2 separate regions of the Homo sapiens genome follow, and region 2 is linked to region 1. Evidence: fine-mapped expression QTL. A gene starts in region 1. The other region holds a variant in brackets. All regions are shown on one strand. Distances are from middle to middle.

Region 1 (4,394 bases):
AGAGGAATTACCTTCAGTGCTTGTAAAACACCTGCAGATTCCCAATTCCCATCCCTTCTGCTAGCAATAGGGGACCAACAAGGGTGCTAAGGCAATATAGCCGCATGACCTGCTGTGGATTTGGCAACAGAATTCTGGCACTGGAATGGAGGGAAAGACTGGGACAGAGACTGGTATAATCAGCCAAACTAGAGCAGATAAAAGGATGAGAGCTGGAAATAATGGCACTCTTCATGAAGTGAAACATTAAACCTGGGCTTCTCAACCTCAGCACTATTAACATTTTAGGCTAGATAATTCTTAAATCTTGGAAGCGGAGTGGGGGAGGGGGGAGATGTCTTGTGCAATACAGGATGTGGCAGCATCCCTGGCCTCTACCCACCAGATGAATAAGATCCTCTTCTACTTACATGATGACAGCCAAATATGTCTCCAGACATTGCTGGATGTCACTTGGGAAGTAAAATCAAAATTCCGTTGAAAACCATTACTTTAAGCCCTAGCATCCCTGCTTTACAGATGAGGAAATCCAGCTACAGAAAGGTACAGGAAGGCCCCAGCCAGGATTCAAGCTGGTGGTCTCACTCCAGGGCCCGGGCTCTTAGCCACTGCGCTTGACTGCCTTTATGGAAAGGAGATTCAAGCCAGCCTTCTGAACAGTATTACACATTTCGTGACAGACTGGATGACAAGAAGGGGATGAATTAATAAGATTCAAAGGTGAAACCTCAGTGCTTGCCGCTGAACTCAGAGGACAGTAGATAATAAGTAGTTTGGGTTTGAATATAATCAAGGTATATTAGGTCAAAACGGAAAAAGCCTGGTCCCTTGTACTATGAGAAAGGAGGTGGGGGGGGGGCGGGGGAGTTGGGGGGACGGTTCTTGCTCAGACTAAAAAGAAGAATCTTCTGTAGGGCTGGACTTGAAGTGTATGTGTGGTATAGACCAGCTAGGACCCAAATCCTGGCTGGGCCCTTTCCTAGCTAGCTGTGTGGCCCCATCTCATTTTGCCCGTTTGTAAAATAGGGGTAAGAGTCCCTACACACAGGCTTGTTATGAGAACTCAGGCAGTTAATAAGAACAACATGGCAAGCCAGCACGATGTGGTTGGCACTCCTCTCCTTCCAGGACATCCTCATTTCCTCCATGTCCCAACGCGCTCCGTACTGCGTGCCAACACCTCCCCTTACCCCTCAATAGTAGGGGTGGGGACCCCCACGCAGACCTCCCAGATAGAGCAGCGTGGACTGTCTGCGCGCCCCTCTCCAAAAGCAAAGCGTCCCACTGGGACTTTAGGGGGCGCCAACAGCCTTTCACTCCCTGATGCACTCGGCTTTCGGGGTCCTGGGGGTCGCCAAATGCGCGCGGCGAGTTGGCTGCCTCCGAAACAAACCAGGTAAATAGTCCACGGTGCAGCACGTACATTTCTGGCAGGTCCGCCCCGCGCAGGCTTGGGATAGAAGCCAGTCAGGCTCAGCCCAGCTCCCAGAGGCACAGGAGAGAAGCGCTAGATTTGGGAACGACCTGCTTTCCGAAGCTGGGCTGCAGAGGCAGGGAGTTGAGAGTTGTTCTATCCAGAAAGAAGCAGGGGGGGCGAGAGAAGAAACAGGAAAGTGGGAGGAAGAGGAGGCAAAAAAGAAAGCGCTGGGAAGCAGAGTTCCCTGTGGGACCCAGCCTACAACACCTGGGCAGGGACTTGGGAACAAAGCAGCTGCTTCAGGTCAGAAGTGCTCTGGGTGTTTCCGAAAAGAGGGCGCTTCGGAGAAGCCGGAGCCCGCTGGGGATGCCGGGCGCCCCCAGAGTTCAGGGAGCGCTCTCGGGCACCTCTTACCTTTGCTGGGGCCCCGGCGCGCACTTCCGGGGACTGCGCTTGGGGCGCGCGGGGCCGAGCAGGGGGACCCGGAGCTGATCACTGAGGGGCGGACACGACAAAGCGCTGCCCGGGTCTTGGGCCGGCACCAGTACCTCGGAAAGGAATCCCGGCGGAGGGGCCGCCGGGGTCAGGGCTGGCCTGGGGATGTGGGGTCCCGGCCTGGGTGCTCACGGACGGCGGCGCCAAGCCCCGCAGAAGCTGCAGGAGCCCGAGTCAGTGGGAGGAAAAGGTTGTCTCATTTCCTTCGATCTCCCCCCTCCTCCACCCGCTTGGCTCCGGACCTGCCCTCCCTCTCCCCCGCCCCCTTCTGCAAGCCAGCGGCCCATGTGGGCGCCCGCAAGACGCGAAACCTGAACGGCTGCGGCGTGCGGCACCTCCCTCCGCGCCAAGTTAGTTCACGCTCCCAACTCCTGCCTGCCTCCCCGCGCTGCCGACTGTCCGCAGGACCGGGGAGGTTCCCCATCGGCAGTCCCCAACCTATCCCGGTCCTCCAGGCTTTCCCCCTGCTGGGACGAGCCCAGATTTGAAAGCAGACCTCCAAGCCCCTGCCAGCATCCATCCTCTCATTCCTGTCCCGTCGCCTGCTTTGAGCCTGTATTCAGCTACTCAACTCAGACAGGAAATAACCACTTACTTTGTTAAATTTGATCAACTTTTTTTTTTTTTTTTTTCTGAGTGGGAAGTTAAAGCCTGATGCATAATCTCGAAGGAATGTTCATTTTTATCGGAAGAAATGCAGCTGAGGCCTCTGTTTGGCCTTTCTCTTTCAGGGTTGGGGTTTTGTTTGTTAAAATCAACAAGTATTTTATTGAGAGTGATGGGCGCTCAGCTGGGGGCTGGAAACGCAGAAACAACTAGAGGGACACCCTGTTCCTATACAATCGTCATAGGGGAAGAGTGCAGGGAGAGAACAGGTCCCGGGTTGCGGTGGTCTCTTAAGAGATGGGTCACGGAGTGAAAGAGCCTTCTACAGAATCAAAATAAAAGCTTGGACAGAGGGAAGACGGAATAAGAAAGCCTTCAGGAGGCGGTCTAGCAAAGAGCACAGCCAGGGCAGTGAGTGATGGTGGGGAACAGGGAGGAAAATATTGTGCCAGTCCGTTAGGAAAGGAGAGGAGCTCCTAGAAGCAGTGTGATGGAACTGACAAGATCTGATGACCAAGGGCTTGAAAGGGAGAAGATGAGGAGAGGATGAAGGAGAGAGGTGACTCCCAGGCCTCTGGCTAGAGTAGCCAGTGACCACGTGGATGACTAGAATCCCAGAGTGCCTTCTGGAGCTGCTACTCCAAGTGTGGTCCAGAGACTGGCAGTACTAACACCACATGGAAGCTTTATGGAAATGAAAACCCTCGGGCCGCACTTGAACCACTGGATTAGTATCTGCAGCTTAACAAGATCCCTAGATGATTCAAATGTGCATTAGAATTTGGAAGCACTGGCTGCTAGACCACTGACTGTATATTATGCTGTATATTGGACTGATTGTATATTAGACTATGGAGCCCTGGGTGTCTATTAGAAACACCTGGGGAGCTTTAAAAACCAATAGGTGGCCCCAGCTCCACCCTCACAAATATTTCTGTAATTGTCTGGGGTGGAGCTCCCACATCAGTTTTTTTTCAGATGCTCTCAAGATGATCTCATACAGCCAGAGATGAGAGCCACTGTTTCAGACTTACTCAAGAGCTACTTCATTTTACCTTGAAATGCTGCTCTTCAAAAGGAAAACAACACCTATCTGTAGATGAAAACGTAAAGACAGGTTATTCCACTCTCATGCAGAGGCAACTGGTCTGGTAGAAAGGGCCCTTGTTTCCTAAACTAATCAGGGAACAAGGTTCTAGCCTCAGACAGCACTAAATTACTCTCTGAACTTGAGAAAGTACTCCCCTCTCCGACCTCTGTTTCCTTATCTGTAAAAAGAATACATACTTGCCTGACTCCAAATTCCACACTCTGGCATGCAAGGGCCATCATCAGAGCTCCCCCTAACTCTCCAGCTTTCCAGCAGGCATATGGAGAGGCTGTGATGAGAAGCGGGGTTTCCTGATGTAATACTACGTGTGTTAGCCAAGGGCACAGCCCTGTACGAATATCAGAGATCAGAGGTTTGTGTGCCGAGTACAGGAGCACACATACAATCAGTGCTCAGTAAATGTGTGTTGAATGAACTAATTAGTAAAGAAATAAATAGATAGGGCACAGGTGCCAATAGGTGAGCACAGACTTTCTATAGATGGGCCCTAATCTTGAGCCTACTTATTTGCCCCCAGGCTGGAGAAAGGACACCTGGAAGCACTCTGACCCAATCTACCTTTGGATTTAAAAATACTACCACTACTAAGAACTGCTAATATGTGTTGGTACTTAGTACGTGCCAGTCACTGGGCTGTGTCTCACTTATAAACATTGCCTCATTTTATTAAAATGAAGCAGATACTGTTGAACCCCCTACACTTCAACAGATTTCAGGAATCACAGGTATGGAGAGACTAGAGCTGCCATCTAGATTATCTACTTC
Region 2 (4,394 bases), 32 kb after region 1:
ATAATGCAAACATCCACGCTGCTCAAGCTAATGTTTAGCAGTTCTGAATATCCTGAGGTTTCTATTCCAAAAGCAGCTACACAAAATTAAAGAATGATTCATATACATCTTTTTAAAAATTCTGGGATGCTCTTTTACAATGACTTCATTTCCAGGAAATATCTACAATTTCCACAAATCTGTATTTCCAATGAACTCAGGGCAGTTTGATAAAGAAAAATATGCCCAGTTTGAATCTAAATACTCAACTTCATTCAATAAATTACAGGTCTTTCTATTCCATCTCGGTGCTGAAAAAAAAATTACAGATCTTCTTTACTTTTCCCTCATAATTTCAAGGTTAATGTGTTCAGATGTTTTTTCACATCATTAAAGATATACAATTCTTTGAGTCATTGGGAGCCTGATGGATGGGGTCTCTCAGGGCATATTCATTTTCCAAAATCATTGATCTGAGAACAAAGTTAAGTAAACCTCCTCTGACTACATTAAATAAAATAAACTTCTATTTTCTGCTTCAAGTTATTGAAGTATTCCTTAAGCTAGCACTGATGAAAGTATAGTCCTGAAAAAAATTCAGTCTTGCTTACCTTATCTAACCATGTGAGAAAACAGATATAAACATTCACAGGAGAAAATTCGTGAATAGAAGATCAATGGAAGTTGGGGTCGCTCATATTCTTTGTTGATATAAATGTAGATGCCAGTTCTTTTAATTGGTGTGGCTCACCTGTGGCATGTAAACTAAGTTTTTCCAAGGTATTGTATATATTATCAGGGAGAAGGGGAGCCCACTAGAAATTACCCCAGGATCAAATAACACATTGACTGAGATATACAGTAAATATTTTTGATCCTTTCCCATTCTCATAGGCAGGATCAGAAAATAGAGGCCTTGGACCCCCTCATAGTAAGTAAAAGACAAAGGAGAAATTAAGGACTGCTCGCCAAGGCCCATAGCCACGAGCAGGATTTACCCTACCCCCATGCAGCAAGGTCTGGTCAAGGAGAAGTTGCAAGGGCACATATTTGTCATGGGCATGAGCAACTTACAAAAATACTGCCCCTGAGCCATAAGCCACAAGCCAAACCTGCTCTGTGTGATTTATGACTTGTTTGTTTCCACTTAACAGCCAGGTTTGTTAAAGGACAGTTTTGTTCCCAGACGAATCATCAGTGAATGAAGGCCGTGGAAGTGTTGCAACTTGAAAATTGACTCAGACATGAATATGCAAATTATATTCAGACACAAAATAGATAAAAGCAGCTTATAAGCAAGCCAGGATGGGGGCTTTAGGGAAATTCCAGTAGAAAATACAGTCAGAGATAAATTTGAAGATGGATTTTTTTTTACTTTGTCTGGTTTTCCTCCTTTTATTTACCCTCTTTAGCTTAATTAAATAATCAGTCCAGCCTAGATGGACTGATGAGAACTAGGCCTGGATGAGAATATTTACATTAATGAGGCAAACCCTCCAGTCTCCTTCTGTTCTTTCTTGTCCAAGAGAAGTGTTTAATATTTCAGAAGTATCTGACTGAATAGTGCAATATAAATCAGGTAGGATGACTTCTGAGCTTCTGGTTCAAGATGGCTGACAGATCACATGTGGCAACCTCTTTCTTCACCCCAAATTCTTAGAAAGGATAACTTACTCTGGAAAATAAGATGTACCCTCAGTGGACCAAAAATCGGGAAAAAAAATCACTAAAACATAGAACGTGTATAGAATTAGACTGAAGAAGAAAACCACAAGCAACATGCACACAGGAGAGGGCAAATAAAAAAGGTGAGATAACTCTACCGGGCATACCCTACCAGGAAGGAGCAGTTACTCACAGGACGACGGTATACTGGAATCACTAACAGGCTTATTATTTAAGGTCCCGCAGAAAGAGCCACCAGGTATATGGAATCTTCCTCTCCTTCCAACTTCCCACCTTCCCACCCTTCCTTCTCATACTTGCAGGGTTGTCAGTTGCCCAAGGCAATTAGGCAACAGAGCTGTTTGCCCTTAGAGATGAGCAATGAGTATGTGCATTTGGACAGAGAAGCAGTCTAACTATCAAAGTAACATAGCTGGCAGTCATTGGCCCTTCCCTAGGCTCACTACACACACAAAGTATAAGTGCAGCATCACGGAATGCCTCTCTCTCCTGCCTCTCACCCTATCCTATGTACACTTGTGAGTACATAATGAATGAATAGCAATTAACAGGAAAAAACAAATACAAAGAATCACTTGCAATCACAAATCATTAAACATGTGAGAAAAGCTAGCACCATTAAAAAGAGGCACTCTCAAACTCAATGAATAGATGAATCTGACTAATGGAAAACAGAGGTAATAAGCTGAGCAGAAAAAACAACCACAAGACAAAGTTAAAGGAGACATATTCAGAGAAAATATTTGCAATGAATATGAAAGGAATAGTATGCAGGATATAAAAAGAATT[C/T]CAATAAGTCAAAAGGAAAAAGCTGTCCCCACCATGTTAGAATACAGTTAGAGGACAGCCATCTGCAAATCAGGAAGACAGCCCTCATCAGAACCCAGCCATGCTGGCACTCTAATCTCAAACATCCCAGCCTCCAGAACAGTGAGAAATAAAAGTCTGTTATTTAAGTTAAGAAGAAGGAGACAGAGGAGGAGAATGAGGAGGAGACAAACAATGCAATACGAAAATAGACAAATTTTCTAAAGAAATAATTAATAGAAATAAAAATATAGAAACAGTTTAACCTCTCTACTAATTGAAGAAATGAAAATTGAAATGAAATATTTTTACCTTTGAGTTAAATGTTTCTTAATATAAAATGATGGCAAAAATAAGGGGAAATAGTTGTTACATAATGATTCAGACAATTTGGAGGGAGATTGGGAAATATCTGCTAAAATTAAAGTTTTAGATTCTTTGACAAAGCCATTTCATTGCTCTGTATCAATTCTAGAGAAACATTCACATCTGTACAGAGTCATGTGTATAAAAACATTTGTGGCCACATTATTGTAATAATAAAATCTTAGAAATAACCTTAGTGTCTGTGAGTAGGGTAATTATTAAATAATATGGCACATGCATATTATAGAAAATAAACAGACAGAATGAGTTTTCTCCATTTATACCAATATGGAAAACTCTCTAAGATATGTTAAGTGAATAAAGCCATTTTAGAACAGTACATACAATAAATTCCATTTGTGTGAAAAATTAAAACATAAAAATATTATAATTTCACAAGTACACATGTGCATGTAAATATGTATGTAAAAATTCGAAGGGATACACACATATAATTCACCCTGGAGAGGAAAATGAGAAGTGGCAAACGGGGATTTCAGCATTATTTGCAGTACTTGAATTATTTATAAACAGAATGTATACACATATTACTTGTACAAAAGGTAAAAACTTCTATATGTAGAAATAAAATTAAATGATTGATCTAATAGGGAGATAATTACCTATAAACTGAATAAAGAAAACTCATCACCCAGGATACCAACACAAGAAGCATTGGTGGCTATTTTTGCATAAAAGATGAAAGAAAGCAGCCATAAAAAAGTTTATGTTCTTCCCCCAAGGAAAAGAATGGCAATCAATGACAAGTCACAGCTGCATAGACGCAGCCCCATCTATGTGCTGACTCAGGAGGTAACGCAGTGCTTCCTCTCTTTGATTACCAGGGGTCTTGACTTCTGTACTAAAGTAAGAGAGAAAAATAATCTCTAAAAAACAGTTTTAATAAATATCACCTTTGCTGAGGGTAGGAAAACGACACTAATTTCACTGACAGACAGATTATCTCACACCACTGGCTTTTCAGAAAAATTGTGAAGCATGTCTGTAAGACAGCCCTTTAAAAAGACAATACTCTATGAAGTATTTTAAACACTGTTAACTAGAATTTTCTTTGTTAGTTTATGTCCCGGCATTCATAATTATGAGTTGCACATGATAAGCAAACAAAAGCCACTACCATTCAACTGATAGCATCATTTTCTCAACAGTTACTGGTTGTTCTGAGAATACTGACAGGCCCCTGACAAGTTTACTGGGTGAAAGAGTGCTAATTCCTGCATTAATAAGGAGAGACTTTTGTCATTAATAAGTCTTTGAAGTAGAAAAAAAAAAACCCAAATTGGTTAAGAGGCATGATCCTAATCCCAAAGCCACAAAAGAATGAGAAAGCTTCAGAGGGATAAGCCTACAATCTCTGCCTAGATCAATCAGGCTAGACTAGACTATGCTACCATAACAAACATCCCCCAAATCTCAGTGGCTTCAAACAATAAAAATCTCTTTATTGCTAATACTACACGTCCATCGTAAGTCAGCAAGGAGGTCCTGTACATCACAGTCACTCAGGAACTCATACTAACAGAGCAACTGCCATT

Alleles and levels. Alleles are on the strand shown, and positions count from the first base shown. SD is a standard deviation of normalised expression in the study named.
For the expression in fibroblasts of the gene that starts at base 2,091 in region 1, allele C in region 2 goes with a lower level than allele T (moderate effect, 0.64 SD a copy in GENCORD).

Evidence for each region. PIP is the estimated chance that this variant, and not a neighbour inherited with it, causes the effect. A credible set is the group of variants that fine-mapping cannot tell apart.
Region 2: its variant is the best candidate, but not a certain one, in a credible set for the expression of EVA1A in fibroblasts (GENCORD, PIP 0.80).

Annotation. Positions count from the first base shown.
Region 1 is chr2:75,558,849-75,563,242 of GRCh38, forward strand. It overlaps EVA1A (eva-1 homolog A, regulator of programmed cell death), which reads right to left and starts at 2,091. Exons shown (of 4, transcript NM_001135032.2): 1 at 1,832-2,091. RefSeq lists a silencer at 2,041-2,100.
Region 2 is chr2:75,591,111-75,595,504 of GRCh38, forward strand. No RefSeq gene overlaps it. Among named protein-coding and RNA genes, the nearest start is that of EVA1A, 32 kb to the left of the region's middle. The variant C/T (reference allele first, on the strand shown) is at 2,455.